Homo sapiens: one gene and its partners. The protein of the gene in region 1 interacts with the protein of each later gene in a biochemical or structural test. Each region holds a gene or a part of one and is shown in the gene's direction. Other genes may lie near its edges.

Region 1 (10,632 bases):
CATGATCCCTAGCTCTCAACTCCCTTATTGGATTGATCACTAAAAGTCCCTTGGGACTTTTGTTCTACTTATTCCACAAAGAGGATCTCATCAACGGCCTTCTTGGCAGTTTGTACATCTGAAAGGCAATCTGTTTGGAATAATTTTAAGTACATGACTTGTACTTTTCAACATCTCTGCCCTATGTACATCTCAGTGACCTATCCTTTCATTACCAGAACTAGTGATGAGTGCCATTAGGGGCATTTTCTCACATCCTGTGAAAAAGGACAAAGCGAAGCTGGGATGGGAAATAATATGGGAAACATGCATGTCCACAAAACTTAGATAAGTATGATCTATACAGGCAGGAAAAACACGGAAACTTCCTCAGGTTTCCCAGTCGGAATGAGAATACACTTTCCCCTTTACCTTCTTTGAACAGCAAATAACAAGATCTTCACAGATCATGACAGCAAAAAGCTGACACTAAATTTCTGATGTATGATCTTTCCCTGTTATTCTAGATGCTATTTCTGATATTTAATTCTGCCTTCTATAGATTAAAAATTATAGTAAGTAAAATGTCCACTTGCTGTAGTTGAGGATTTTTACACATTAAAGTTTTACATAAGGGGAGTGATTTATGCATCTATTAAAAAAATATTTGGCAAAAATTTCCCTTGTCTATAAAAGTCTACATGGGGTTAATATACTGTGCAGGAAATGTACCTGAAAATTCTCTTTGTTATGGGTGGCTCTTTCTGCTTGTAGAAATTTTGTATTGCATATAGCGTTGTCTCATAAATGTGAAAAAGGCTGTGATAGAATTTGTGGGATGTCCTCCTGTTGAGTAAATAGGTACCATCCTCTTACACATGCTTGGCACAGTATCCAAAAATGAGAGGCTTTGACTAAAGACATGAGTGTTGCGTTTTAGAATTAGCAATACTGACAGTTAAGTGTTCGTAGTGGTTGTCCTAATTTCTTCAGCGTTTCACAAAAGGCTTTTTGTAAAAAGTCCACTATCTATGTGATAGGCCCTCTACTGGTTTAGTCACCTTTCTCCTGATCTGGTTCCTTGTCTAACCATCCAGAGTAACTAGATCTTTGCATAGACGCATTAGTTATGTGCTGACAATAGGAGCCTGAAAGTTCCCCTATCTAGCTTGTGATTATAGCTCTTAAAGCAAGATCTCTGTGAGAGCTACCAAAATAAAGGCATACTCTTTATAAGGCTGTTCCATCTAACCATGCCTCTAGGTATGTTCTCAAAAGTGTTAGACGCAAGGTTTTTATGCCATTTTTGTTTTACTTTCATGTCATTACTCAGGGACATATTTTTTGCTAAGGTTTGCCTTTGGTACTCTTAATCCAAGACAAAAGAATAGCTCCTTTCAGAGTTCTCATCATTTCTTCACCCCAGCCTTAATGGGTATATTCCTTTTCCCCAGGTGTCCAGAGTTTTCCAGAATTGTCCCAAGGCTCAGTCCACACCAGTTCTTCTCCAGTGTGCTCTCCTGAGAGGCCAGGCACACTCAACAATTATCTAGATGAGTTCCCACTTCTTTCCAAGTGAAGGTTCTGCTATCCTAGCATAGTCAGAATAAGTTAAATTATGTCTCTTAAGAGGCACTGTTCCACTCCTCTTCAAGGTGTGTGGCATATTTGAAATATGTGACTTAAAAGTCTACAGTCTCTTACCAAAAGCCTTGGGCCAAATACATGTCAAAATTCAGAATTTTCCAGATTTTAGAAAAGTGACCCATATACCATACATTGCATAAAACCCTGAGCAATGTATGGGGAAGCACCTGTGACCAAACATAGTATTTTTGCAGTGAAACATATGAATATTTTCATTCATATATGTATATATGAAAGAAAAAACTATAAATAACCTCTTATTAGTTCAAATCACATTTTGGCTCAAGTGAGTTTTGGCTCCAAACTTACCAAAAAATACTTATTCTTTTTCAGAGCATTTTGAATTTCAGAATTGTGGGATTGTGAACCTGTACAAACGTGTAGTTGGAATACAGAGATCCAGATGCTTTTTACTTGAAGAAGTCCTTTTGAGGATAAATAATTAATAACTTTATTGAAATAATTAACCATATATTAATATACTTCATAAAGAATAAGATGGATCCAATATTTAACTCAATATATTAATATATATTTTTTGAGAAGCTCTGTCACCCAGGCTGGAGGGCACAATCATAGCTCCTGGCAGCCTTGATCTCTTGGGCTCAAACAATCCTCCTGCCTCAGCCTCCCATAGATAGGACTACAGGTATGTGCTAATTTTTTTTAAGAGCTGGGGTCTAGCTATGTTGCCCAGGCTGGTCTCAAACTCCTGGCCTCAAGCAGTTTTTCTGCCTTGGCCTACCAGAACACTGGGATTGTAAGTGTGAGCTACTGTGCCCAGCCCCAGTATATTTCTTGTCTCTCAGTAAACTGAAAAATGTAAGTAGTACAAATTCCCTGAATGAGGGTTAACTAGAATGTTATGCCATTGGCCTAACAACCCCAACACTATCTTTTTTTGAAATGGTTTGGAATGCTAGTATTTTACTGTTAGTGATTTTCATTCATCATACATGACCATCTCTTTTTCTCTCCTTGAAATGGTTATATTTTAGTTACAGAGTTAAAAAACTGATTGTTTTCTTCTGCGAAGTCAGCTTTTCTATCGCTGCTCACTCTGCTCAGATATCTGAGCCTTCTATGCCTTTGTATTAACCTTAAAATAAAACAAAATCATATCTTGAGAGAGCATCTAAGGACAAAATAGTTAAGATGACTTAAAGACTAATATATCAAGAATATTGGAATGCTGATTTCCTTAATTTAGTTCTTCAAAGTTATTTAATAACTTTATGAATGTTGAAAAGACTTTATTGTAATATTTTATTCTAAAGGGACTAGAGTTTTTTTTTTTTTTGGAGACAGAGTCTCCCTCTGTAGCCTAGGCTGGAGTGCAGTGCCACGATCTTGGCTCACTGCAACCTCCGGCGCCACCACGCCTAGCTAATTTTTGTATCAAATACATTTTTAAAAGATAAAGGAAAAATATTGGGCTGGGCATAGTGGCTCATGCCTCTAATCCCAGCACTTTGGGAGGTCAAGGCAGGAGGATCATTTGAGGCCAGGAGTTTGAGATGGCCTAGGCAACATAGTGAGATCTCATCTCTACTAAAAATCAAAAAAATTATCTGCGTGTGATGGCATATGCTGTGGTCTCAGCTACTTGGGATGCTGAGGTGGGAGGATTGCTTGAGCTTGGGAGGTCAAGGCTGCAGTGAGCCATGATTGCACCACCGCACTCCAGCCTGGGCAATAGAGTGAGAACCTGTCTTCCAAAAAGAAAAATGTTAAAAGAATGATCTAGGCCAGGCGTGGAGGCTCATGCTTGTAATCCCAGCACTTTGGGAGGCCAAGAACAGGTGGATCACTTGAGGACAGGAGTTCGAGACCAGCCTGGCCAACATAGCAAAACCCCCATCTCTACTAAAAATACAAAAAGTTAACTGGGCATGGTGGTACATGCCCTGTAATCCCAGTTACTCCGGAGGCTGAGGAATGAGAATCTCTTGAACCCGAGAGGCAGAGGTTGCAGTGAGCTAAAATCATGCCACTGCACTCCAGTCTGGGTGACAGAGTGAAACTCTGTCTCAAAAAATTAAAAATAAAAATAAATTTGCCAGCATTTTAAAAAGAAGCAGTCATTACGGTTTCTTTGTTAGAATCGACCACTGCTAATATCACTGTCTTAAAAAAAAAATTACCAGCCACGCACGGTGGCTCACACCTGTAATCCAAGCACTTTGGGAGGCCGAGGCGGGTGGATCACGAGGTCAAGAGATCGAGACCATCCTGGCCAACATGGTGAAACCCCGTCTCTACTAAAAATACAAAAAATTAGTTGGGCATGGTGGCACATGCCTGTAGTCCCAGCTACCTGGGAGGCTGAGGCAGGAGGATCACTTGAACCCAGGAGGTGGAGGTTGCACTGAGCTGAGATCATGCCACTGCACTCCAGCCTGGCCAACAGAGTGAGACTCTGTCTCAAAAAACAAAAAACAAAACAAACAAAAACACAAAAACATAATTATCTATACTAGATCCTGATTTATATTGATCTTTGATAGTGAAGGTGGTATTGGAACATTTCTCTGTGTATTGTTTAATAGCCTGGGCTGTATTCACCTTGTATGAAATTCTCAGTTGTCAAGACCTGTGTCTCAGGAGCTTCCACATGTATTCCATGGCTTGATTTCAGAATTCATGAAAAGGATAAATTAATTTGAGTTTTAGTTTTGTGTCATTCCCTACCCAAAGGATCTCAAAGCCACATCTTCCAATCAGTGGCATTAGTTACCTGTCCTGATCATTGGACTCCCAAGTCTTAGTAGACACATAAAAAATAAGGGAAAAGCTCTATCCTGAGCACAGTGAATACTCAATAAGAAGGTATAAATTCTGTAAGGCAAATTGGGTTATGGCCCATCTGCAGCCAGCACACAATTTAAACCCCTTTACCTATTCCTAAAATGCTGCTCAGTAACAAAAATTAAATGTCTCTATCAGTTGCCTCCTTTCTCATCTAGCTACTCCCTACAAATTCATTCTCTTTGAGATCTGCCTTAATCTTTCAATATATCTTCAATCTTCATTTTGGATTCATTGTTTAGGCTATTAAGAACCTAGGAATTATCTGGATTTTCTTATGAACAGTAATAAGAAAATTTTTGTTTCAAGTAATTTTCAATTGGGTCTTTAACATTAACAGTTACCATTACTGGATGCCTAAGATATTATGTAGATCCTATACCAGAATGTTTAAAATATGACCTCATTATAACCTACCAACCCTATGGAGATAGGTGACATTTTCACTAGTTTTCAGATGTAGCTACGACTCAGATAATTAACATGCCCAAGATCATAAAGCTAGTAGTGCCATAAAATGGCATACAATGGATTCAAACTAAGTCTATCTGACTCAAAAACCTATTCTTGGACTCTTCAGAATTTATCTTTCTACTTTTACAGATCACATTCCTCTGACTTTTGTATATTTCATTTGTATCTGTGTCCAGAGTTTAACACTTTAATATTCCTGACTTTGAGAACAGATGTAAGTTTGAATGCCCAGATTCATTTGCAAAGCAAAATATAATAGTAAAGTTCATTCCCAAACTTCTGATAACCCCAAAAATGAATTAGAATGTAAAATATGAATGTAAAGATGGTTAAGTTTGAATATTGATTATTTTGCTCTATTTCAATTTATTTGTCATTGTTATAATCTAGCTGAAATGTCTGTATAGAACAAAAATTTTTAAACCCTGCCTCATCACAATTCCCCCAACAAAAATATTAATTTTTAAAATCCAGTTTATCAATTTCTACTTACTCTATCAATTTTGAGCTATGAGACCTTGCAAAAGAATTACTAGGCCAGGTGTACTGGCTCATCCCTCTAATTTGAACACTTTGGAAGACCAGGGTGGGAGGATTACTTGAGCCAAGGAGTTCAAGATGTTGAACTCCTATGTTGCCTGGGCAACATAGTGAGACCTTATCTCTAGAAGGAAAAAAAAAAATGAGCTGAGTATGGTGACACACACCTGTAGTTCCAGCTACTCAGGAGGCTGAAGTGGGAGAGTCACTTGAGCCCGGAGGTTGAGGCTGCAGTGAGCCGTGATCAGAATTTCTAAAATTCTTTTCATTCTACAATTTTGCTGCTTTCTATATTAAAAGCCTCTTTGGGTAATTTATATTTTAAAAAAAATTCCTAATTATCTCAATAAAGTTTGTTTTTCTTGGGTCTTTAAGAATTTAGAGAGAATTAAAATAGTTTTGTGTTTAATAGCTCTGATTCTGGAATCGGTCAATTAAGGTTGTAACATTTAACATCTAGGACATCCAGGAAAAATTAACCTCTCTGAGCCTCTGTTTTCTTTTCTATAAAATGATGTGGGACCCACATCATCAGGTTGTTAAAAAAAAAAAAAGTTATATGAAGCACTTTCCATAGTACCTTGCACAATAGAAGTTAGCTATTACTATTTTTATTTAGATTTTGTGGTTTGTTCTTTGTAAATCAGAATCATAGCATTTTAGAGCTAGAAGAAACCCTTGGTGATCATTTGATCTAGCACCCTTATCTTTCATATGAAGCCTGGAGAAAGAGCAAAAGCTGGCTTTTGAGGTTTGGTGGCAAGTTGATGGTGGACCTCTAAAGAGTTCCGTCTGCCTTGGGGCAGGGGGAGGGGTGCAAGATTGTGTTGCTGTTATTATATTGTTTTGTTCTTACTTCTCTTTAATGATTCTTTACTCACATTTAAACTATTAAGTTGTTTCCATTTTTATTTATGCAATGATTTTATCACCATAGTAGGTTGGCATGAATACATTTTCTTCTTTGCTTACCTTAGCTAGCTTCCTTCCCACTCGGAAAGATAAGTCCATCACACCCAAAAAGATAAGTCTGCAGTATTATAGATGATGCTTTTGTGTTCAGCAGTGTAAGACAAAAAGCTTATGGTCTTTAATGGTTTTATGCTGATCTTACTCTTCTGGTAACTTTCTGTGACGTTAAGACATTGCTTCCAGCAGTAGTGGAGCGTGCCTCATGTTTTGAGTGCTGATTAAGTGAAGGCCTTCTGATCCATCTACAAAGCAGTAGTGGTTACAATAAGGATAGCAATATTTTTATCTCTGTTCTCTCTTGTATTGTAGAGCCGACAGTTAGAATCAGAAACTGGGACCACAGAGGAGCACAGTCTAAATAAGGAAGCTCGAAAATGGGCCACACGTGTGGCACGTGAGCATAAAAACATTGTTCACCAACAACGGGTAAGTGTAAGAGAAAGTCCTAGTTACATTCACCTTAAGCCAAATGTCAAACAGTTTAAGGAACTGAGTTTTATTAATGTGAAAAATATCCTATATGTGTTGTTTTGTTTTATTTGAGACAAGAGGCTTGCTCTGTCACCCAGGTTGAAGGGCAGTGGTGTGAACATGGCTTACTGCAGCTTCAACCTCCTGGGCTGAAGCAGTTCTCCCACTTCAGCCTCCCAAGTAGCTGGGACCACAGGCACATGCCACTATGCCTGGCTAAATTTTTTTAGATTTTTTGTAGAGATAGGGTCTTGCCATGTTTCCCAGGCTGGTCTCAAACTCCTTTGCTCAAGCATTATATGTGTTTTTTCTGTACTTTCTCAACACTCAGCAGTGTGCTGTCAGCTATCTACTCATGTTGGAATTTCCTTAAGCCCTCCATCAGCAATACATTAATTTACCTGTTTACCATAAAATTAACAAAGAAAATTGTGATAGTGTATTATGGGCAGGGGAAGAGACATATGTTGAATTAATATAAGTTTTCATCCCTCAAGACATATTTTTTAAAAGACATAATTATAGCCGGGCGCGGTGGCTCACGCCTGTAATCCCAGCACTTTGGGAGGCCGAGGTGGGTGGATCACAAGGTCAGGAGATCGAGACCATCCTGGCTAACATGTGTTACGGTGAAACCCCATCTCTACTAAAAATACAAAAAATTAGCCGAGTGTGGTGGCGGGCACCTGTAGTCCCAGCTACTCGGGAGGTTGAGGCAGGAGAATGGCATGAACCTGGGAGGCGGAGCTTGCAGTGAGCTGAGATCACGCCACTGCACTCCAACCTGGGCGACAGCGAGACTCTGTCTCAATAAAAAGAAAAAAGAAAGACACAATTATAGATTTCATGAAAATATATGTTTGGCTGGGCGCAGTGGCTCACGCCTGTAATCCCAGAACTTTGGGAGGCTGAGGCAAGTGGATTGCTTGAACCAGGAGTTTGAGACCAGCCTGAGCAACATGGCAAAAAACCCGGTGTCTACAAAAAATTCAAAAATTAGTCGGGCATGGGGGCGCACACCTATCTTCCCACCTATTCGGGAGGCTAAGGTTGGGGAGAATTGCTTGAGCCCGGGAGGTGGAGGTTACATTGAGGTAAGATCATGCCTCTGAACTCCAGACTGGGTGACAGAGAAAGACCCTGTCTCCAAAAAAAAAAAAGAAAGAAAGAAAGAAAGAAAATATATCTCGAAGACTAAACTCTAAGCACAAAGAAATTATTTGGAGTATAGTACTTTTTTTCTGTTTCATTTATTGATACCTATATCCGTCTCATTCTTTGCCTTCACATCCTGCTTCTTAAAAGAATTGCCTATGCTTATTATCTATAGAATCTCACCTCCCACTTACTTTTTAGCCCATTACATTTGAGCTTTCCTGTCCTTTCCTTCCCCTGTCTAAGCTTACCAAAATCGCCAATGATGTCTGTGTTGCTAGCTTCCAAGTGGACACTTTGATTTCTCATTTTTCTTAATCTGTCAACAATTTCATCACAATTAACAATTCCATGTCTTAAAATGTTATCTTCTCTAGTCATCCACGATTCAACATTGTCCTGGCTTTCCTTCTGCCTTTCTGGCCATACCTAGATTTTTTCATGGGTTCCTCTTTCTCCATCCCACAATGAAATATTCAGTTTCTCAGATTCCTATACTTGGCTATCTTGTTTTCTTATTCTTTACCCTCATATAGGCATTCTCAGTCACTTCCATGGTTTTACTTTACCACCAAATCATAAATTAACATCTTCAACATTGGGCCTTGCTACTACTGTGTATCCATATAATCTCTTGCCTGTTTTGACATCTTCTTTTCACTATCTCACAGGTGTCTCAAATTCAGTGTTCCACTTATGTAATGTTGCTTAACAAACCACCTCAAACTTAATGCCATAGAACAAGAGGGTTTTTACATTATCTCTCACTAATCTGAGTATTGGATGGTCTCAGCTTAGCAGTTTCCCTTGGGGTCTCTCATGTGGCGGCAATCAGATAGTGGCTGGTCCTGGCTTCCCCACTGAAGGGACTGTCTGTAGTAAGTTTGTTACTAGTAAGTCTATAATTATTTCAAAATGTTCAAAAAATAAATAAATGAAAAAAAATTATGGCTACTAGTCACTAAAGCCCTTTGAATTATGTAAATACTTTAATCACTTAAGGAAGATGAAAAGTAAAAAACAGTCATCATTATTGTCCCATTTTCTTTAATAGGTTCTAAATGATCTGGAGTGTCATGGAGCTGCTGTATCAGAACAAAGCCGAGCAGAGCTAGAACAGAAAATAGATGAAGCTAGAGAAAATATTCGTAAAGCAGAGGTAAGGTGGCAGCTAATTGTGGCATTTTGCCCAGGTCTAATGACACTGTCACAGCTGTGATATACATCTTTAAAACTGAGTTTCTACACACACTGAGATGAAGGTGATTCACCGTCTTCATTCGTGTCCACAGTAGTATTTGTTGAGTACCTGCTCTGTGGAAGGCAGTACATATAACAAAAAGATGCTGTAAAGTTTACAGTCATGAAACATTAAATACAAAAGATTTAAGTCACAATGAAGATACTAATTTTAAAGTTTCTAAAAGGTACATAATAAACCACAGAGATTAATGGTAGAAAAAATGATGTATATATATCAATTTAGATATATATATATATCTCCTTATATATCAATATCTATGGAGACATATATTCATATATATATATATATTTTCAGAGCTTAGGAAATCTCCCCCATATGGAAGGTTCCCTGGATCCAGGGGCATGAGCTGGGCTTTTAAGAATAGGGAAGATTTGGCTAAGCAGAGATGGGAAAAAATTTATAATAGTGGATTTTAATTTTTTGTGGAGTCATGGGACCTTTGAGGGTTGTATGAAAGCTGTGAAACATTCTCTCCCACACACAAAAATGTACATTTTGTGTAGTGTTTAGAGTTCTTATGCCTGAGGCTAATACTCCCTGCTCTAGATAGGGAGAGGTTGGGATAGGAAACAAGAAAGTATTAGCAAAGGAGGAAGACACAGAGTATAATTTGGTAGCTGGATATGATTAGAGTGGAGGATTTTTGTGAGGAAATGTGGTAGAAAGTAAGTAAACTTGTTGTGGTTAGGGCCAGTTTATGGAGGACCTGTGCACACACTTTTATCTACTCAGCAGCAATGTGGTGAAGGGGTATGGAGGTAGACATTTATAAAAGACTGACACCATCCAGCCATTAAAAGATTAGGTTCTTGTTAGAAAGGCATAAAGAATGCCAAAAATCACTAAGATGGTAAAGCATAACTGCCGAGGAGTGGTGCATTAAGTATAGTTGAAGAACCCAGAGGCCACAGAAATCACTCTGGGAGGGATTGTTGCGGGTGTAACACAGAAGAAGACTTAAGATGAATGCTGGCAGATGAATAGTATTTGATTAGTCAGAGAAAAGGGGATAGCACAGACTTATGCCATGCAACTTCAGGAGGTAGAATTTGAACCAAAAGATGAAGGTAGGAAAGAAGGAGATGTGAGTTTAGTATTGGGAAATACTTTCTAATAGTCAGATCTTCCCAAAGACAGAATAAGCACTCCTGAGACATAGTGCAGCCCTATAAGTATGTAAGAAGATTCTGGGCAAGCATCTTTCAGGGACCCAATACAAGGAATCCCTGCACTGGTTTAGGTTTAAACTAAACTAATGGTTTTCTAACACCCCCTTAGAACTCCAGAGGTTTTGAGGAAGTGCTTCACTGGTTGTGGGGTGA
Region 2 (10,632 bases), on another chromosome or scaffold:
CGCAGTGAAGAGAAGTTGAGGCCGTGCGCCCTGTGGTGGCGGTGAAATACACAAAGTTGTTGCGAGGTTGAGGGTTGTTTGCCCACCTGCGTTTCGAAGAGGGGGCTGGGTTTGCGCAAGGTAGCGGGGGGACGTTTCTCAGGCCTGGCTGGCCAACCTGTTATCTCCGCCACTAAGTGCAGCGCAGTCTCGCCTGCACCCGAGAGAGAGTTGGGGAACTGAGTCAGGGGCATGGTGGACGCTGTCCTGGCTCCTTGGGGGAGGGATGCAGCTGGCGTTCTTTGGCCACGAGTCAGTTTCCATACCTGCTGAGTGGGTATACAGAAAGAGAGGGTCTGTAGTTTATTGGACCTCCCCCATCAGAAAATCTGCTTCACCCCGCGACCCCTCCAGGTGAGCTAGGACACCACTGCCTGGCGGTTCCTGAGCCCGCCGCCAGAAGAGCCTGCATTCACCCCTCAGCCGGATGACGCATGTGTCTCCACCGTGTGGCTCAGCCATACACTTGGGAGGGGGAGAGGGGGAAGGGGTGCTTGCTTTTAGCTCGAATCGGGTCCAAGTTTACCCTCCCACCACCACCATCATCGTCATTATTGATGATGAAAATGAAGCTACTATTCATTGTTGGTTTACTACATGCCCGGCTCTGTGTAAAATACTTTACTTGCACTATCTCACTCCGATTCACAACAGTTCTAAGAACGAGTTGTTCTTATTTATATACCCCAAATTAGAGATAAGGAAACTGGGATTGATACTGGTTAAGTGACTTGCTCAAGGTCACACAGTTGCCAAAAGCGAGGGTTTGAGCCCTTGCTGCAGAGCCTTAAGTATGGAGGAGGAAGGAGTGGGGGGATGACCCTACCGCACTGAAGGGGCTGATTCCTGAGGAGGGAGTGGAAGCAAATTCCTCTCTCAGAAATCTGTAGAGGCCTTTTAAAAGATGCATTTGCTGGCTGCTGGTGATGTAGGTCCCTTACATCTCACTTTGGTACAGACAAGGGGCTGTCCTCATGTCAACCCAATGGAGACCAGCTGAGGCCCTTAAAGGGCTCCCTTGTGCAAGCAAGTGCCATGACGCAGGTTCTCCCCAGTGAAAGCACCGAAGGAAGTCGTGAAGTTGAACATGGTGAAAAGTTCCCATGTGTTTCCATAAGGACAGGCAGCAGCTGGAGGAATGTGTCAAAGGAAGGGCTGGGCCTAGCTGGTCCTCTCTTGGAAACAGGCGTGCTCCAGATGAAATGGAGGAGGGGGCGGCCGACTCGCCTGGCCTTTTAGCAGCTTTGGGAGCTGAGGAGCTGACACTTAGCTATGGAAAGCTCCTTGTATTTATGACTTCATTCTCCACTGGGATACCTCCTCCAAGAAGCCCTCCAGAATCCTGCTAGGATGCACAAATTCTTCCTCCTTTGGGCTCCTTTAATGTCTACTTTGTGGCTTTTTTACTTACTCTGAACTCTGAGTTAGGTCCTCATTTCCATACAAGGTAGTGAGCTCATTAAAGGGAGAGATTGTGCCTCATTCCTGGCATACCTCTCCAGGTTTTGCTTGAGGTTCAAAACCTTTCCTGGCCTGACAATGCGTCTTCCTCACACTGGCTTTCCTGTGGGTATTACATAAGCTAACACGTGGAAAGTGCACCCAACAGTGCCTGTACATAGTAAGTGCTCCATAAAGATTAGCTATTTATGTTTGAATTGATTTTAGCAGCTATTTATTTCTGAAACTAGTTTTTAGTGTCAGGAACCTGGATAATTATGACTTGATAGGGCTGTAGAGAAAATACTGTGTGAAGGCATAGGATGGGAGCAGCTGCAGGTCTCAGTTCAGGACCATTTTGGAGAAAGGGTGGAGGAAGGACAGGCAAGGGTACCTGCCCAACTAGGGGGATGCCTCGCAGTGTCTAACGGGTCCTGAATAGGGGCTGGCTTGCAGTGTTTGCAGTGTGCAAGATGCTGCATGGGCTTGTGTCTCTTCCTTCCACTAGTTGCCAAATTTCTGGGAGGCGATGTCCCAGGGCTCTCTCATCATGGAGTTTAGGAAGGCTTGGTGAGATAATCAAGTGGGTTTGGAAACAGACACCTCTGAGTTGAAAGGAAACTGTAGTGTCTCCAGGTGTTAGCTCTCTTCACCCCTTGTGCACAGATTGTTCACAGCAGGGGCGAGTGTGTGGGTATGTTTCTGTGTGTGTGTGTATATGTATGTATGGATGGATGTACGTGAATCTACTTGTAATGGGATAGAAATATGATACTGATTGGGAAACCTGAATGGCCTGGAATTCATTGCAGTCTGAAAGTGACTATTTCATGTAATAATTACACAGGCACAGTTGGATCTTCTGACGTCTTCATTACCAGTAATGATGGCCCTAGAAACCATTTCACCAGTTTTCTGCTCCCTCTTCCATGTTGAGAATATGATTTAGATTGTATGACAGAATTGCTCTTAATGTGTCTTCATTACTGTGCCTTTTAAAGTCATATCAAGCAGGCTCATACTTGGTATATGGTAAAGAAAAATACTACTTTTGTGTTGTTTGCATCCCAAGTTAGCCACTTCCAGGGACACAGATCACTCTGGATACTGTCTACATGGTGGGAGAAAATTCTGTTTTTCTACTTCATGGCAGTTCTCTGGAAAGATACATGGACCAAAACTGTCTGTGACAGGACTGGATTGTGCAGGAATCAAACTCAATGGATCTGCCAGGTTGGACTTGGTTCATTTTAAATGGAGAAGACAGTCCTTTGTCAGGTTGGAGTTGGTTCATTTTAAGTGGGGAAGACAGTACTTTGTCATAAAATGCCTTTACAAAGTTATATATAATTATGTGTATTCAGGTATCATTTACCTATAGTAAAATGCATATCTTAGATATATAATTTGATGAGTTTTAAGCGATGTATGCACTCATGTTAATCACTCAAATGAAGATAGAGAACATTTTCATCACCCCAGAAATTTTTCTCATGTTCCTGTCCAGTTAATTCCCCCCTCCCCCTGCACCATAGATCTACCATAGAATAATTTTGTCTTCAACTTCATAAAAATGAACTAATGCAGTATGTACTCTTTTGTGTTTGGCTTTTGTTACTCAACAAAATATTTTGGAGATTTCGTTTTGTTGCATGTGTACTTCATTTGGTTCTTTTTTTATTGCTAAGTAATATTCCATTGTATACACATACCAGTTTGTCCTTTTGCTTGTTTATGGACATTTGGAGTATTTACCATTTTTTACTATTACGAATAAAGCTGTTATTAATGTTTCAGTTGCTCTACATCTTTGGCCATCTTTGATTTTGTTTGTCTTTTGAATTTTAGCCGTCCTAGTATATGCTTCGGAAAAATGTAATTAAGGAAACTTTGATACAGGATATAAGATGTCGCTAGTATGTATTAAGATCTTGCCTTAGAATATAATAGGTGCTTGGCTAAGCTGATGCTTCGTGGGCATTCTCTTTTTCAGTCCTTACAATTGGACTCAGATGTTAGAAGCTGAGGTTCAGAGAATTTGGGTAACTTTTCCAAGGGTCATACCACAGTGGCAGTAGAGCTGCAACCCAGCTCTGTCTGATTCCAAAGCCTGTGCTCCCAATTCCTGGGACAGTAGGTCTCCAAGTGAGGTCCTCAGACCAGTGGCATTAGTATAGTAACCTGGGAACTGGTTAGAAATCCAGATTCCTGGGCCCCACCTTAGTTCTACCAATTCAGAAGCTTTGCGGGGGATGGGGTTGGGGTTGGGGGGTGGGGTAACAACCATGGGGTGTTTTAATAAACCCTCAAGGGATTCTGATGGGCTTATTAAGGGATTCAAGGGTTCAGTTTTAAGAACTACTGTACTAGGGTATAGACCAAAATTGAGAAGATGACATCAGATGAGACAGGTGACCTGGGTTCTAGAATAAGCTCTGCCAGTCACATTCTTGGAGCCTACATTTCTCTATGCCAAAAATAAGTGGGTGAGCCTCTTCAGGTTATTTGTGCTCGTGAAATCCTTTGTTTCCATGAATCACCCAGACTCCAAAGGTTTAAAATGGTATGATTGTAGTTTCCCAAAGTGGTGTATTACAGGTCATGCTTACATATTTTTGCAGGTGAATTTTGTGGTTTTTCAAATTACCCAGGAACTGTAACTATCCCTCTACTTTTTGTGTATGTGTGGCAGTGTGGAGATAATAAAAGAGATACAATTTAAAAGCCAAACCAAACCACCACCAGACCCTTCCCCTCACTGTAATGAGGGAAATTGTGATCACATATGGTTGAATATAGTTCTTTGTGTGGTTTTTTGTTTTGGTATTGTTTTGATTCATTGGAATGTATGACAATAACTCTCATTTTAAAACACAGGGCCTTGTCTTTCAGAGTTGTTTGGTTTCTCATGAATCTCTGGTCTTGCTTCTTTCTCCTCAGTGACCTCCTTCTGGTGTGCTGTAAAATGCTTAACAACCAGTGCTAGTAGTGGGTAGACCCTGATTTATAGCATAGCTGGAGTTGGGAAGAGACGCGTATACTTGCTGTTCCCAAGCCAATGTGAGCTGGCCCCCACACACCACTGACTGCATATAAGATAGTGCCCTTGTGGTGGCTCACCTGTAATCCCAGCACCTTGGGAGGCCAAGGTGGGTGGATCACTTGAGCTCAGGAGTTTAAGACCAGCCTGGGCAACATGGTGAAGTCTCTACCAAAAAATACATAAACTAGCTGGGCGTGGTGGCGAACTTCTGTAGTCCCAGCTACTCGGGAGGCAGAGTGGGAGAATCGCTTGAGACCAGGAGGCAGAGGTTGCAGTGAGCCAAGATTGTACCACTGCACTCCAGCCTGGGTGACAGAGTGAGACCCCCATCTCACACACACACACAAAAGATAGCTCCCTGAGTAAAGTGCCATTCCCTCACCCTGTTTGTTCCTTCATAGCCTTGACACAATCTCGTATTATCTTCTGTTGTTGTTGTTGTTGTTTTTTTTTTTTTTTTTTTTGAGATGGAGTTTCGCTCTGTTGCCCAGGCTGGAGTGCAGTGGTGCGATCTCGGCTCACTGCAACCTTTGCCTCCCGGGTTCAAGCAATTCTGATGCTTAGCCTCCCGAGTAGCTGGCATTATAGGCATGTACCACCATGCCTGGCTAATTTTTTGTATTTTAGTACAGGTGGGGTTTCGCCATGTTGCCCAGGCTGGTCTCTTGAGCTCAGGCAATCTGCCTGCCGCCTTGGCCTCCCGAAGTGCTAGGATTGTAGGCGTGAGCCACCGCAACGGGCCCTGTTTCTTCTTTATTGTCTGTTTCCCCTCCCATGAGAATAGAAGTTCCATGAAAACAAGAAGCTTGTCTCTCTTGTTCACTGCTGTATTTCTCAGTGTCTAAAAAAGACCCAGCAGGGCCAGGCGTGGTGGCTCATGCCTGTAATCCCAGCACTTTGGGAGGCCGAGGTGGGTGGATCACAAGGTCAGGAGTTCAAGACCAGCCTGGCCAAGATGGTGAAACCCTGTCTCTACTAAAAAAAAAAAAAAAACAAAAAAATTAGCCGGGCGTGGTGGTGGGCGCCTGTAATCCCAGCCACTAGGGAGGCTGAGGCAGAGAATTGCTTGAACCCGGGAGGCTGAGGTTGCAGTGAGCTGAGATCGCGCCACTGCACTCCAGCCTGGGTGACAGAGTGAGACTCATCTCAAAAAAAAGACCCAGCAAATAATAGGTGCTCACTAAAATTGGTTGGATGCCTGAATGACTATTCCATTGTTTCGGAAGGTAAGTGCAACTAGGCCACTTGCAACATCTTTCCTCCCTTTCTCTCGATTTGTCTTTTACTTCTTGTTTAGGATCCAGAGGTCTTCACTTTCTCGTAATCAGATCTTCCAATTAGCAGGCTTTCTGTGTCTAATAATTTATACTGGGCTATAAATGACTGACAAGGATTAATGAATCCTATTCAAGTATTTCTGCCTGTTGACTCTAACTGAAGTTTAACAAGTGAGCCTCTAAACGTGAAATTTCAGATGTTCAGCAGGCAGGATGATGAGGATTTTTTTTGTTGATGTGGGACCTGTGTCCTCATGCCTAAAAATGATTCTTTCCCTCCGTTTTCTTGCAGCATTGTCCCTGTGTACTTTTTTTTTTGGCTAATAGCAAATCAGATCTTTGCTACAGAACACAATCCAATTTTAGCCCTCTCGCTCTTAAATTGTACTTTGTATTTATGTCTTTTTTTTTTTAACTTAAACTTTCAAAAATCAACCTGTTTTTGTTCTTGGTGCCAAAAGACCACTCTTGGAAGGATATTTTTAGGTTACACTGTGGAACACTGTACAGGTTTTACAAAAAATGAAGCAAGGACGTACAACGCACTTGTCCATCGTTTCCAGTGGCCACCCCTTGTCATTGGCTGTGTTATTTAAAAATAGATTAACTTGACCTTCTGTGGCAATGGCATACAGTTGGCTCACCGTGTTTCTTGGCATTCATTACCCAGCTGGTTTTAGATGGCAGAATTGATGATATCCACCAAGGGGAATTAAGTGGTTTATAAGAGAAAACATTCTGACATCTCCTTACCACAAGGGTTTACATGAAGGATGTTGCTTTGTAAACGAGGGTTATTTAATGCAAAGCACCACTCTCTGGTGTTAGTGGCCCTTTCCTTGAGTTTGTATATACAAGTAACAGGATATACTGATTTTGTATACACTGAGAATAAAGGCTGTCAAATTCGTTAAGGGCTGACATTCACATCCTAAAAAAGTAGGTTACTGCATGCCTGCCTGTCTTTTTGCAGCTCATATGTGAGATCTGTAACCTTGAAAAATCCCTAGTACACACTGGTGCATTGCTAGACTTCTCCCCTATGGAGGTCGGCATCGATGTAGTATTTCTTATGAATTCATTTTGTTGTTTCAACAGATGTCAAGGTTGGTCCTATCATATTGACTCTGCTTTCTAGTTAAGTGTCCTGTGGAGGGTCTAATGTGTTCTGGATGTCAACTTTTCCGAAGGCATGTAGCAAAATTAGAAAATGTAATTTGAGCAGTGTCTTTTATGATTAAATAGAAATCTTCTCTTTTTATGGCTCAGTAATTACATAATGGAATAATCCATTATTAATCATTTCTGTAGTCTCTGTATCTGAGTGAAAGCCGAAGTCCTTATAGTGACTTCCAAGGCTGCCCGTGACCTGTCCTAAGGATATTACTTCTCTTTCTCTGTCCTGCCTGCTAGTGCCCACCTGATCATCTTACAGGCTTGCTATCTCTTGAGCTTCAAGTCTTTCTGAAATGTCACCTGCCCAGTGAGGCCTCTTGTGAGCACATTATTGAAAACCATAACTCCACTGCCACGTGTCATTCCCTGTTCCCCCTCTCAGCTTTATTTTACTCCATAGTATGTAGATCGCTTCACCACAAGTAAATTTCTTATTTTACCTCTTTCTCTAGAATGTAAGCTCTGAGATGGCAGGAATGTTGTCTTGTTCTCCCACAGTATCCCCAGTAGCAAAAACAGTGCATGGTGCCTAGTACTTGCTTGGGTATTTGTTAAATGTTTACAGTCAAGTTTAGAACTAGAATAAATCTCTTCTGAGGTCAGTTACCTCTGAAAATGTAGATATATAGAAGTCCCTGAAAATTTAGGTGACTGATGATGGATCACATTAAAGTTGGTTAGAGTTTAACATTTACAGTCAATGGCTGGGGCTAAAATAGAGCTTAGCCGATTGATCCAGGAATATTCTTAAAGTCAGTGAACATTGCTGGCCTGCTTCAGTTGGTCTTAGTATTATGGGTTTACAAGTAAGAACATGTGGGTCCTTGGTTTCTTGTCAAGAAGGGGAGGGAAGAGTCCACTGGAGTCTCCTTGGAGTCAGAGATAAGGTCACATTTCCAATTTTAGGTTTCCCTGCATGGAAGAGGTCCTTGACTTTAAAATTAATTGAGTGTCCTGATTTTCAGAGGTTACTTTGATTTGGGAAATGACGGTAACAAGGGGTACCAGGTGGCTGATCCAAACAGGAGAGCTGAGGCTACTAGAGTCACCATGAAGATCTTGTCGAGTTAGGGATAGGTCTGTGCACAGCATCCCTTACTTAGCCAAGTCATTGGCCTCAGTCCACTTTCAGTCCTGTGTGCTCCCCACCAACATGAATCCCTAGAAGGCAACTCTAGGTCAGGATTTGAATGCACAGGGCTTATCTGGGAGGTGCTCCCAGGAAGTTCCAGTAGGGCAAGGAAGAGGTGAGACCAGTGAGTCAAGAAGGCCAATGGAGATGCTTTAAAGAGCAAGTCACCACTGTGTGTCTAAGGCAGCCCCATGCTGAGTGTGTCATGGAACTTTGCAGACTCTCTCACCCCTAAACAGACTGAGAGGTTCTTCTGGCTGTGTGTATAGACTTTTTCTGTTACCATCTCCAGTGTCATGAAGATGAGTTCCATAAGATAATTACATTCTCATGGCTAAGGTATCAACCCCACCATTACTGTGGATGGAGGCATTTGTGTGTCTGTTTAATGGGCCACAGTTATGCTTCTTACAATAAGGATAATCTTTACTCCTTTATGAGACAAGACTCGAGGCTCTCTTTATGGACAGGGGCATGATGGTGCAATTAAAAGGCGATCGTGCCCTGATTATAAGCCATGTTTCAAAATTACTGCTATATATAGTGTCATCAGGACCGTAGTACTGCTCATAAAATGATCCACAAATAGCAATTTACTGATGTGTCATAGAGTCAGATTTTGGACCCAAGGTTGGCTTGGGTGAAGAGGCAGGCTTTACACTTTATGAGCTGGGTGTTCTGGGGCAAGATGCTGAACCTCTTTGTGCCAGGTTTCCCCCTCGGAAAATGGGGATAATAATGATACCTACTCTCTAGGGTTGTTGGAAAAGTAGAAAGTAAACCACATGACACAGGGCTTGGCACATAGTGAGTGCTCAATAAATGTTGGCTTCTGTAATTGTTTGAATGCTCCCCATTTGAAAGCCCTTGGGAGAGAAGAAAGAATCTCTTGAGAGATGGAGATTGCAGTGTACAGTTCTCTGGAGAGCTTTTCAAGTCTAGAAAAAAAACACTCTTTTTTCTGCTTGATTCAGATGCTGCCTTTTTGAAAGGCTGAGACTGGATTAGTTCAGACAAGTAGGAAGGAAGCCTCCGGACCTCACGGAGGTTTGAGTTGCCCGAGTTTCTCCCACATTGTCCTCGGTGAGGAATTGCTTTTAATGATTGTTCGCAGGTCGCAGGTTGTGGTAGTGTGGAGGGAGGGCGAGTTCTTGCGTGTTCAGGCAGGCTTTTACCATCAACGATGATTCTTGAGAATGGGACTCTGTGGTCCTCTCATCTTCCTGGTACCACGTCTGGGCTCCTACATCAGGAATGGCTGGGGAAGCAGTGGGGCTTAGTGGTCATAAGGGTTTGGAGTCAGACCGCCTGGGTTCAAATCCAGGCTCTCGCACTTCCCAGCTGAGAGACCAGGGACAGGTTAGCCTCCCAGAACATCAGTTCTCCCAGTTGAAAATGAGAATGTTACCTGTGTCATAAAGTGGTTGTAAGGATTAAATGAGATAATGTATGTAAAACTTGTACTACCCTGCCTGGCTCTTAAGTGGTGCTCATTGAAGTACCTACCCTACAAGCAGCTGTGATCTTTTCTTTTCTTGATCTCAGCTCACTGCAACACCCACCTCCTGGGCTCAAGCGATCCTCCTACCTCAGCCTCCTGAGTGGCTGGGACTGCAGGCATGCACCCACCACACCTGGCTATTTGTTTGTTTGTAGAGATGGGGTTTCACTACATTGCTCAGGCTGGTCTCGAGCTCCTGGGCTCAAGCGATCTGCCTGCCTTGGCCTCCCAAAGTGCTGGGATTACAGGCATGAGCCTTCGTGCCTGGCCAGCTGTGATATTTTCAGCTGAGAAATGGAGGTACGTCAGTTAGTGCCTCTGAATCAGTGGTTCTCAGCTGGGGGCAAGTTTGTTCCCCAGGGGACATTTGGCAACGTCTGGAGCCATTTTTGGTTGTCACAATTAAGGAGAGGGTTGCTTCTGGCATCTAGAGAGTAGAGGCCCGGGACCCTGCTGAACACCCCACAATGTACACAACAGCCCCTCAAGGGAGAATTATCCAGCCCAAAATGTCAGTAAGGCTGAGGTTGAGAAAGCCCCTCTACAGGCATGACTCCATGCTTGATACTGGGAATCTGAGTTAGGAGGGATATGCTAGTAATTGTAACTATTATTTATTGTTCCTCTGATACATCACTTAAACCCAGGTTAAGGGTTTGTCTAGGTAGATGAGCTTATTCTCATTTCAGCTGTGAGAAAATTAGCTTGAGAAGTCAGGTTCTCCTGGTTCCCTGACTGCTGACCTAGGTGAGATTCAAACTCAGATCTATCTGATTCCAATAATCTTACTCTAGGTTTCCATGTTAGAAATGCCTTGACAGCAGGGGCATGGTGGTTCATGCTTGTAGTCCCAGCTACTAGGGAGGGAGGCTGTGGTGGGAGGATTGCTTGAGCCAAGGAGTCCGAGGCTGCAGTGAGCTATGATGGAACCACTGCACTCCACCCTGGGTGACAGAGAAAGACCCTCTCTTTTTTTATTATTTATTTATTTATTTATTTATTTATTTATTTATTTATTTATTTA
Region 3 (10,574 bases), on another chromosome or scaffold:
AAAGCCAATACCACAGAATGCATAATGTTGAGACTGGGAGAAAGTGGATCTTCAGTGATATTATTTAAGCCCTTGATCAAGCCTCACCTGAAGCTAGCATACATCTCAATTTTCAATTATGTAAGCCAATAGATTATTTGTATTTTTAAGCTTGTTTAAGTTTTCTGTCACTTGCAACTCAAAGAATCTGACACTGTGCTGTTTCCAAAGGCAATATTATTTCCACTGTCAAAGTTTCCAGTGACTTGTTCATTGATATTAAAGAAAGAAGGGCAAAATGAATCATTTTTATTTGTATGGTACTAGTACAATTTGTAACATGGATACATCGCGTAGTGGCAGTGGGGAAGTCTGGGCTTTTAGCACAACCATCACCCGAGTAATGTACATTGTACTCATTAAGTAATTTCTCATCCCTGACCCCCTCCCACCCTTCTGAGTCTCTAATGTCTATTATTCTATACACCATGTCCATGTGCACACATTATTTAGCTCTGACTTATAAGTGAGAACACGCAGTATTTGACTTTGTTTCTGAGTTGTTTCATGTAAGACAATGCTTTCCAGTTTCATCCATGTTGCTGCAAAAGACATGATTTCATTCTTTTTATGGCTGAAGAATATTCCATTGTGTGTGTATGCATATGTATGTATATATACCACACAAAATGAATCTTTAGACACAGGTTTGCGGGACTGGCACCAGAAGAAATTGGGAAGGAAACACATTTGTAATCAGGTCCTCTTCTGCTCCCTGGAGTGTTCTTTTGCATTTCTTATGCCTTCTCCACCCTATTGATGAGGTCAACCCTGGATCCTTTTTTCCAGAGAGCTTATTCAACAGCCAGTGTTAGGACGGTGGTTCTTAATTTTTAGGTGTACTAGACTTACTTGTGGAGCTCATAAAAATACAGATCCCTTAGGAGGCTGAGGCAGGAGAATTGCTTGAACCCGGGAGGTGGAGGTAGCAGTGAGCCGAGATTGCGCCATTGCACTCCAGCCTGGGCAACAAGAGCGAAACTCCGTCTCAAAAAATAAAAATAAATACAGATCCCTGCAACATGTTCCAGGAGATTCAGGTTCAGTATGTCTTGGGTGGGGCCCAGGAATCAACATTTTTAACACTTTTCATAAGCTTCCAGGTGATTCTGAGGCAGTTATCACTTGGAGAAACGCCATTGTCTTAGGATGGATTCCTCAAAAGCTGATCCTGATAGGGTATTCATGAGCAAGTGATTTAGTAAGGAAGTGCGCCCAGGAGAAACTTGGTAGGTAATGAGAGAAGTAGGAAAGGGAACCAAACAAGGGTCGGATTTCAGGCAAAGTCCTGGGAAGGGTACCTTCAGCCTGATCCCACAGAGGACCTCTGGACTGTAAGTAACCCCTCAGAGTTGTCCCCTCTTCCCCAGTCAAGGCTTTCATATTCTTGCACTATGGGTCATTGGCTAACAGCTAATCAACCTAAACTCCCAGGCACTTCCGCGTGGGCAAAATGATTCCAGTAGCTTGTGGGAAGTCCTTTGGAGTCACAGGTATGAACTTTGGAAGCAAAAATACACTGAAGCTGGAGTGAGGCACACAGAAATGGGAAAGGGGATCCGAGGGAATTTGAATGGAGCACCTACAGTGTCTGCTGAAACCATTTAAAGGATTTCATATTTACTACAGGAGTATCTGGATTTTTAAAAGCAAGGGAGAGAACAACATGCACCCAGTGCAAAGGGAATAATTACTTAAAAGTAGAATTCTGTTCATGCTTGGGGTTTCAGGGTAACTCAGTCTACACATAAGACTCTAGTACCACTGAAATCTGTAATCTTTCAGTGAGTGAACTCTTTAAAATGGTAATTGATGCCTTTCAGTGTCTGGCCCCTGCCTATTTCTCTAACTCCCTCTGGCCTCTTTCTTCCTATAGGCTATGATCTAGCCGTGACCTACTTCTCCAAAACAGCATATTCTTCTTCTAAAAGAGCATATGCTTGCTCACCTCCAAGACTTCAGAAATGTTGTTTTCTCTACCGATAATCAACTGGCCCCTACTCCCTTCACCTGATTAATTTCTATAATTTCTATAGTCTTGTTCTAAACATTTTTTCAACTGGGCCTTCCCCAACCCATAAGTCCTCTCAATATGTGTTCCCCATACTTCCTAAATCCTAACAAACATCACTCTTCAATGTAATTACTTGCCGACAACTTGTTTTCTTTTAGAATGAAGTTCAGAGAGGGCGGGAACCATTTGCAGCTATAGCCCCCATGGCTAACACAGACATTCATTGAATAAATATAAAATAAATAACTTGCAAAATGATATCAGAGTATAAGTCTAATATATGTAGCTTTTTCTGGAGAGAGGAAGGGTGTCTTTCATTTTAGCTTAGAACATCCTGTTTATACCGTGAGGCAATAACTATTCCAGTTGAGAACAGTGTCATTCTTAATTTTATTCATTAATTCAGTAATAATTTATATCCTTAAACAATCATACTATGGAGTGAGGCTGAACTCTAAATTGCCTAAATTAGCCCCGTGCCACACTGACCTCTGTGTGTGGCCCTCATGCTAATATTTCTCTGGAGTGTGTTTTTCCCTTGTATGTCTGTGTCATGCTGAAATGATGTGGGAGCCCGACAACCTGAGAATGTCTAGTGCAGTTGTGAGGAAAGTCCAAGACCTCGAAGTCACTGAAAATTTGCACTGACATCTGAGAATCAAATTTGTTTAGCACCAACTCCATCCTTGTGGGGTTTTAGATGTTTCTGAATTTTTTAAGGCCTATCAATTATATACTAGAGGTATAGCTACATTATGATGAAGACGTAGAACTGTTTTATTGGTAATTTTCCTAGCATTAGAAATCGGCCGGGTACAGTGGCTCAAGCCTGTAATCCCAGCAGTTTGGGAGGCCGAGAAGGGCGGATCACTTGAGGTCAGGAGTTCAAGACCAGCCTGGCCAACATGGTGAAACCCCGCCTATACTAAAAATACAAAAATTAGCTGGGCATGGTGTCAGGTGCCTGTAATCCCAGCTACTTGGGAGGCTGAGGTGGAAGAATCGCTTGAACCCAGGAGGTGGAGGTTACAGTGAGCCAAGATCGTGCCACTGCACTCCAGCCTGCTACCAAAGCCCATTTTCCCCCTACTTCTCCCTTGTCTACCTCCCAAGAGGAGGCAGGAGAAGACAAATATCCGTGTCCCCAGCTTCCCTTGCAGGTAAGTGTTGCTGCCTGTGACTCTGTCCTGGCCCGTGAGATGAGAAAAAGATATTTTCTTTCCCTAATAGATGAGAGACGGAGCAGAAAGGCCTCTCCTGTCCTTACTGCCCTCCTGCTTCCTCCCTTTAATGTCTGAAATTGCAGCAGCCATCTCATAATGATGAGGCAACAAGCCTGAGGATGAGATGCTAACATTACAAGAATGGCAGAGTGGAACGAATAAACCTAGGTCACTGATGACGCACTTGAATAGCTGATCAATGTTAATAACCACACATCTCCTTGCTACATGGAAAAGAGCACCCCGCCCCCTTGCATTTGTTTAAACCACTGTTAGTTGAATATTCAGTTGCTAACATCTGAACACAATCTAATAGATGCACTTACTTTAACATTTTCTTTGTGGAAACGAAAACAGAACCAAATTATTGACACCTGACTCACTAATACATGGGCTTATTTGTTGGAACAGTATTGGATTTTTGGAAGACACCCAGAGAAAAATTAATTTAAAAGGTTTGCTTATTTTAGTCCCCGAAGCAGAGAGGATCTACTTCTAACCATCATACATGGTACAACTTCTGAGGGATGTGTATTGCAGAGAATTTCTATATGACTAAATATTACACTGGGAACTGGGAGATCTAAGTACAGATCAGGAGAAAAAGTCCTCAGCTTTGTGCTGATTGGCAGACCTCAAACCACTCAAAGCTTGTGACCAGGGAGTGCCAAGAGCTGATTAAATTAGGCTTATCGCTGTGGCAAGGGGGCTGCATGTGTTAGTTTAATTAATCAGAGCCCACCTCTCCAGTAAAGATGGTTACAATCTCACCTCAAGTCCAGAGCTGCTACCCCATGGTGGGGGAGAGGGGTGGGATGGCTTTTGGGAGAGCAACCACCACATTCTTCCATCTGTAAGTGAGGGAGTCTCTTTCCAGATCCAAACCAACTGTGATCCTATGAGCAGAGCACTTACTTATTTTTGCAATCGTCTGTCTCTCTTTTTTTCACCTGCACTTTCTTTTCTGTTTTACTTTATGATTGTCCTTTTCTACCTCTGAGCATAGGTCCCTGTAGAAGACAACAAACCCCAAAATGAAGTCGACAAGGCTTGGTATAGCTCAGTCTTGGGCTGGGGAAAAGAAGTGAAGCTGACAAGGTGACTTGAGAGGGTCCCTGTGCACTTCAGGGCAGAATGGAGTGACGCCTTATTCATTAGACATGAGCTGGACATGCCAACTTGTGGTGAGTAACTCTTGGACCCTTAAAGGAGGCAATGTTTCTCAAGTTCTGAAGCCCCCGTCTCTAGAGAATGCACAAGCTCTTTGAGAAAGGAGGAAAACCGTGTGCAATTACACTTGTCCTCTGATCTGCATTTAAAAAAAAAAAAAAGGTTTAGTACCCAAATCCTTAGCAGGCAAATCTCTCAGCCTTTTGAGGGAGTGGTCAAGGGTTTGCACGAAACGTTTCTGAAGAGAAAATAGGCTGTGAGTCTCCACATCACCCCCTCCACTTTGGTATTAATAAATACTTTTTTTAAAAAAAATACTGCACTGAGAAATTTACCAGACGATTTCTGGAAACTGACTTATGAACTAATTGGGCACTTTTGCTGTGCGGAGGAACAAAGACACTATTGGTCTTCAACTGAGGCATATACCTGTCTGATGGCGCTGGCTCATTCCGCACATGCTCAGTTGAACAGAAATCTTCATATTGAATGCAACCTAGCACAGCGGCAACACCCAGAACCTCACTCCCTGGCTGCTCCTGTGCCTGCACTCCCTCTAGTTGCATTCTGTTCCTGACAAGTCTAACATTTATAGGGAGTATAGAGAGCAGAGTAGGTCCTGGGAGTTTGAGGACAATATACAAATGAGCTTAAAGTCACGGTTTGTCCCTGCCTTCCTAGCTTCTCTCTAGGTTGGTCTCTAGTGAGGGTAGGCGCTGGATAGATATTTGTTGAGTTTGGGGCAGAACGTGGGAGAAGCTGTCTCTATAGATGACCGTTTGCTGTCGCACACCTTCCTAGGCAGTTTTTGTTTAGTCCTTTTCTTGGACGACCTCCCCTTACCCCCAGCCCTCATCTTCATTAAGGAATGACAGGGTAGCACTAAAAGCATCCGCTGCCAAGCACGGATTCAGTGACAACCTCTCTCCACCTCTCTTTTAGCTTTCTCATTCATTAGCACCCTTTCCCTGCCTCTTTTCCCAGCAAAAAACTGGGAAAGGCTCCCTGCGATTACAAAAGAAGGAAAGGGGAGCGGCCAGAGTTTCGTGCCTCTTGCCGGACAACGAGCGTGCAGCCGTGGACCTTTTGTCTCCAGCCCCTTTCGCGGCTTGGTCGCGGCTAGGCGCGGAGGCGACGACCCCAACCAGCCCCGCCTCGGCAGCTGCAGCCGGCGCGCCCCACTCAACCCCCCGCGCCCTCTAGAATCCCGGTGCCCGCCCGTTCGCCGTGACGCGGCCGGCGCCCCGCGCATGCGCCGCTCGGCCCGCTCCCCTTTCCCTGGGCCACCGCCTCCCGACCGGTTGGAGTGGGCGGAGCCTGTGGTTCTGGAAGCCGCGCCGCCGACGGGGGAGGAGGGCGTGTCTGCGCGAGGCGGGTGAGCGGGGCTGGCGAGCCGGTCGGCTGCTGAGGCGTAGGGGCGGAGCAGAAGGCGGCGGCCGCGGCTCCCGCCCGCACAGAGCGCCGGTCCCGCGAAGCCCCCTCCCACTCCCGGGCGGGCGGTGGCGGCTGCGGGAGGAGGAGAAAGAGGAGGGAGCGTCTCTGCCGCCGCCTCCTGGTCCCCAGCGCCGATCCGCCGCCGCCGCCACCTCCCTCCGCGGCGATCCTCGCTCCATGGTCCTGCCGCGGCCCCCTCTGTAGCCCGAGCTGCTCCGCGACGCGACGGAGCCGGCCTCGGACAGAGGGAGCGGTCGCGGCCTCGCGGCCCGCGCGGGCTGACGAGCGGAGAGCGCGACGCCGCGCGGTCCCCGAGGATCCGCACGCCGGGCAGCGCGGCCCGAGCAGCGCGAGAAGCAGCGGGCGGGCGGGCGGCGCCGGGCCCGGGCCGCCCTCGCTCCCGCGCCCCGGCCCCGCCGCCCGCGCCGGGGCGGTCGCCTGCAGAGGAAGGCGCCGCAGTCTCTGGGCCTCGCGGCCCCACTCGAGCGTCCTCGGCACCGAGGGCTCGCGGGTCCTGAGGGGAGGAGGCGATCCCGGGGCTGGGCACTGAGCTCTTGGGCGCCCCCACCCCCGTTTTCGAAGCCCTCCACGCTGCGGCCGCTATCCCCTCCGGACCATGGCCGACGACGACGTGCTGTTCGAGGATGTGTACGAGCTGTGCGAGGTGATCGGAAAGTGAGTCTCCACGCGAGGGAGCGGGAGTGTGGAAAAATGCATTTCAGTGATGCCCCGGTCTTCCCGCACCCGCTCGGGGCCTGCCCCCTGCCCTCCCTCCTTCCCCTCTTCCCCTCTCGTCCTTCTCATCCTGGAGTATTTATAGACGTGTACCTGGAGCTCCTGCCAGGCGGGGGCCTGGGGGTTCTCAGCGGTCCATTGAGGCCACCGAGCCGAGGTTGGCCACCCCGTAAGGCGTGGGGCCGGCTGCCTGCATTTTATCTGACGGTTGCACAGGGACGTGGCACAGCCGATTTTATAGTTGCTTCAGTTGGGGTTATTGTTACCTTGCATGTACCATAGACCATTTTTGAAACAGAGCAGCTTGCATTTCCTTTGCTTGTGTGGTGAGAGAGTCCAGGGTTTTAATTGTGGGGTGTGTGTCTATTGTGCGGGATATTAGACAGATGCCTTTGTGTACACCCCATGCTCGGATTGGAGGGGGTCATTTAAGACGGGGTGCTTTCAGTTTCAGCAAATTCCCTCCTGGTGTACACGAACGTGGAAAGAGTTGGGGGCATTCGAATTTTTAATGCCTTGTTATGCAATGACTGTTCAATCAGTGCTCGAGACTCCCCTCGACTGTTGTTGGGATGGTGGTTAGCGTGGTAGAGCCGTCTGCTTTGAGTCACCGGGCTGGTCTAGAATATAGAACTGACAGTCCAAATGCTCATCCTTTCATCTGTGTTGTATAATTACGCTGGGGAAAAGCAGGGAATCAGATTAATCACAGTGCTGATTGAGAATTAAATCTGCAGTTCCTCATCTAATTGTCCATTCCTTAAATCTATTTTGAATAGTTTCCTTTTCATTCTTGTCAAACAGTACTCCAAGTGCACAATCCTGCTAATTTGCTTGTGAAGGAAATGCTGGCAATCTGAAGTTGATTTCCTAACACAGCGTGTATTCTGCGGCTTTAGAAGTTGAGGAGATAAGATTTAAGAGCAAATTTTTGCTTAATAAGGATCGCTAGAGCTAACATTGAAATATCTTACCTCTTTTTTTTTTTTTTTTTTTTTTTGGAAGCGGTGCTTTATTGTCTATTTTAAGGTCCACAGTTGGGAAATGAAACCAAGACCTTAAAGCAGTTGGCCCTATCTCTTTTAAGTTGTCTGCAGTACTCAATTTCAATTTGAGTGCTAATTTGTTTCCTTTTCTTTCCATATTGAGGTATTACAGTGTTGCCTCACATGGTGAAATTGTGGGTAGAGCTTGCTACACACTTTACTCAGACCCAATTGATGTGAGGACATGTTACTCCTTGCCCTATTGTTACATGACCAGCCAGACTTAAAAGGAAAGTATCCAAATGTGTCCTGTTAAAGTGCTTGTGGAAGTGTTCTAGAACAGCACTGTCCAAAAGATATATTATGAGCCACATTTGTAATTTAAAATTTTCTAGTAGCCACATTTAATAAAAACATACAGGTGCAATTAATTTTAATAAAATATTTTATTTAACCCTGTAGATCCAAACTTAACATTTCAACATGTAATCAATATGAAAAAATATTAATGAAATATTTTACATCTTTTATGCTAAGTCTTTGAAATCCCAATGTGTATTTTACACTAATAGCACATCTCAATTCTGACACTAAGCTACATTTCTGATGAAAATCAGAAATACTTAATCTGTATTTAGGTTTCATAAAATTTGCGTTTGCAAAAGTATATTCACATACCCAAGTTGTTCCCAATATACATAAAAGTTTTCCAATAACCGAATCAAGTACCTTTTTCTAAATTTAAATTTTAATTAATTAAAATTAAATACAATTCAAAATTCAGTTTCCCAGTCGGACCAGCCACGTTTCAGGTGCCCAGTAGCCACATGTGAATAGCACAGTTCTAGAGAGAAAAATGCATCAAAAATCTCCTTGGTTTCCTCATTCTTAGGAGCACCCAGTGAAGATAAATTAGGTGTTTCCCAAAAGCCTCCAAATGACTGTATGTGTGGGTGAATGATGTTTGTTGCATCTTAGTTATAGCTGATGTAAATGAACTAACAAAGTCATAATTGGAAAATGTGAGATTAAAATGTTAATTATATTGTGAAGATGTAAAATAGCCATCTCTGAATCAGTTTTGGTAACTAGTTCTGATTCCTTAAAGTCTGGAAGGGTGATGATGTGATCTCTTTGGATATCAAAAAGAAATGGTCAGAATCACATTAACACAGTCCATATTCTGCTGATTTGTAATTGATAGAATATTTTTCAGGAAACACCCCTGGGAGAAAAAAATTCATCTTTTCTGACTGTTTCAGAGCTGCATAAAGAGGGGCAGCAAGCTAATTTTGAGGTGATAGGTACTCTATGGCTACCTTAACTACTATGAACTGTGAAATCTCATTCATATCCTACAAAATCTGACTTGGTCAGTGCCAATTATAAAATGCCATTATGTGAAATAATGAATTCAAGCTAGCCTTATTGTTAAAGAATGTAATAATAGTGTTCCTCAATCTGAGTAAAGGTTGAAGGTTTCTCTAGTAAATTGTCTTAGTATATATTGATCTGGAAATTGAAATTAGCTTGAGATTTTCTTGCAGGGACCTTGACAGCATACATTTTTAACTTATAATTTGTTCACCTCTGAATTTGAACAGAAAGCCCTTGAAGATATTCACATGTACTGAAAACCTTTTTATTGATTTCTATCCAAGTTCTATGGAATTTTGATTTTCTTTTTTACCAAATTAGTATCACAAGTTGTTTTTCACCACTAGATCTTAATAGGTTTTAATTTTTACTAAGGTACTTTAAAATAGATTTCACTTTTCAAGACTAATTGACTACCCACTCACTCCTCTACCTACGCAACCACCTACTCACTCACCCACTGTGTACTTGGCCTTACTTGATGGCATAAATGAAAGTTCTCGTTTAATTTAGACCCTTCAGTGTGTTTTTTTCCCCCTTGGTTGAGAAAGATAACTTACAGAGTTAATGAGGTTTTGAAATATAAGATCATTATTTGGAATATGTTTTCTTTCCAGTGGTTGCAGCCTTTACCCTTGTTAAAGCTGTCTTTGAGGGAACATGTGCCCAATTTGTTACAAATATTGGAAGGATGCCGTTTCCCTTTTTAAAAATTAAAACTCTTTTCCCTGTGTTTCTCATTTTTGAAAATCTTGCAGAAACTCCTTTGAGTGACTGTTGGTTCTATAACATTTTCTATGTAACTATCTTTTAAATGACTGAAACAAATCTCCAATAATAAGACCTTATCATAGTCCCAAAACTTCTTGTCTTAGCAAATGTAGCGATTACTGGAAAGGAAGGGCGTTATGCAAATGAGGTTAATGACTAATTTTTATGTCATGATCATTTACTGTATCTTTTACAATTATAAGTAAGTGTACAACCGGTAATACTACATGAAGGAAATTTAAGACAATTCATCGAAATTAAAACATAGAAAAATGCCTACTTTCTTGGTACAGCAGTGTGTATGAAAGGGAATAACAAAATACATACCATTTTTACCTTGTGTTAGGTGAATACTTGCCCTGTTTAGTAGCCTGTAGCTTCAGACTTTCCTGCTCTGGTAGGACATACACTAAAATTGGAATGATGCAGCATGACCCTTGCTTAAGGATGACGTGCAACTTTGTGAGGCATGCTGTATTTGCTTACTCCTCGAGAGCACTTTTATTTAATTACAGTTACTTATTTATGGATCTCTCTAGTTCACTAATAAGGAGCTTCCTGAGGGCAGGGAATGTTTCTTACACATCTTTCTCCATTAACACAGTGCGTGCAATGTAACTGCCTTTCATTAGCTGTGGAATGAATTGAGTAGTTTTAATAAAATCTCATTAAAAGGCAAAAAAGCATGTTTGTCAACCTCAGAGCAATTATTGTCCGAAGAGCCTGCATTAGTTTAAAGTAGTGGTTCTCCACCTGGCTGCATATTAGAATCATCCGGGGAGCTTTTAAAAAAGATCAACGCCAGAGCCCTGTGTCAAAGCAGTG

Evidence for each region.
Region 2: the proteins of FCHSD2 (region 1) and MAGI1 form a complex in vitro, tested with the Homo sapiens proteins (2 studies listed by BioGRID and IntAct, with this or other methods).
Region 3: the proteins of FCHSD2 (region 1) and CASK form a complex in vitro, tested with the Homo sapiens proteins (2 studies listed by BioGRID and IntAct, with this or other methods).

Annotation. Positions count from the first base shown.
Region 1 is NC_000011.10:72,886,043-72,896,674, reverse strand, and holds part of FCHSD2 (F-BAR and double SH3 domains protein 2), read left to right. Parts: intron 1-6,729; coding exon 6,730-6,846; intron 6,847-9,100; coding exon 9,101-9,205; intron 9,206-10,632. UniProt on the Homo sapiens protein: Adapter protein that plays a role in endocytosis via clathrin-coated pits. Contributes to the internalization of cell surface receptors, such as integrin ITGB1 and transferrin receptor.
Region 2 is NC_000003.12:66,027,269-66,037,900, reverse strand, and holds part of MAGI1 (membrane-associated guanylate kinase, WW and PDZ domain-containing protein 1), read left to right. Parts: intron 1-10,632. UniProt on the Homo sapiens protein: Plays a role in coupling actin fibers to cell junctions in endothelial cells, via its interaction with AMOTL2 and CDH5. May regulate acid-induced ASIC3 currents by modulating its expression at the cell surface.
Region 3 is NC_000023.11:41,918,911-41,929,484, reverse strand, and holds the start of CASK (peripheral plasma membrane protein CASK), read left to right. Parts: upstream 1-5,930; 5' UTR 5,931-6,496; coding exon 6,497-6,555; intron 6,556-10,574. UniProt on the Homo sapiens protein: Multidomain scaffolding Mg(2+)-independent protein kinase that catalyzes the phosphotransfer from ATP to proteins such as NRXN1, and plays a role in synaptic transmembrane protein anchoring and ion channel trafficking.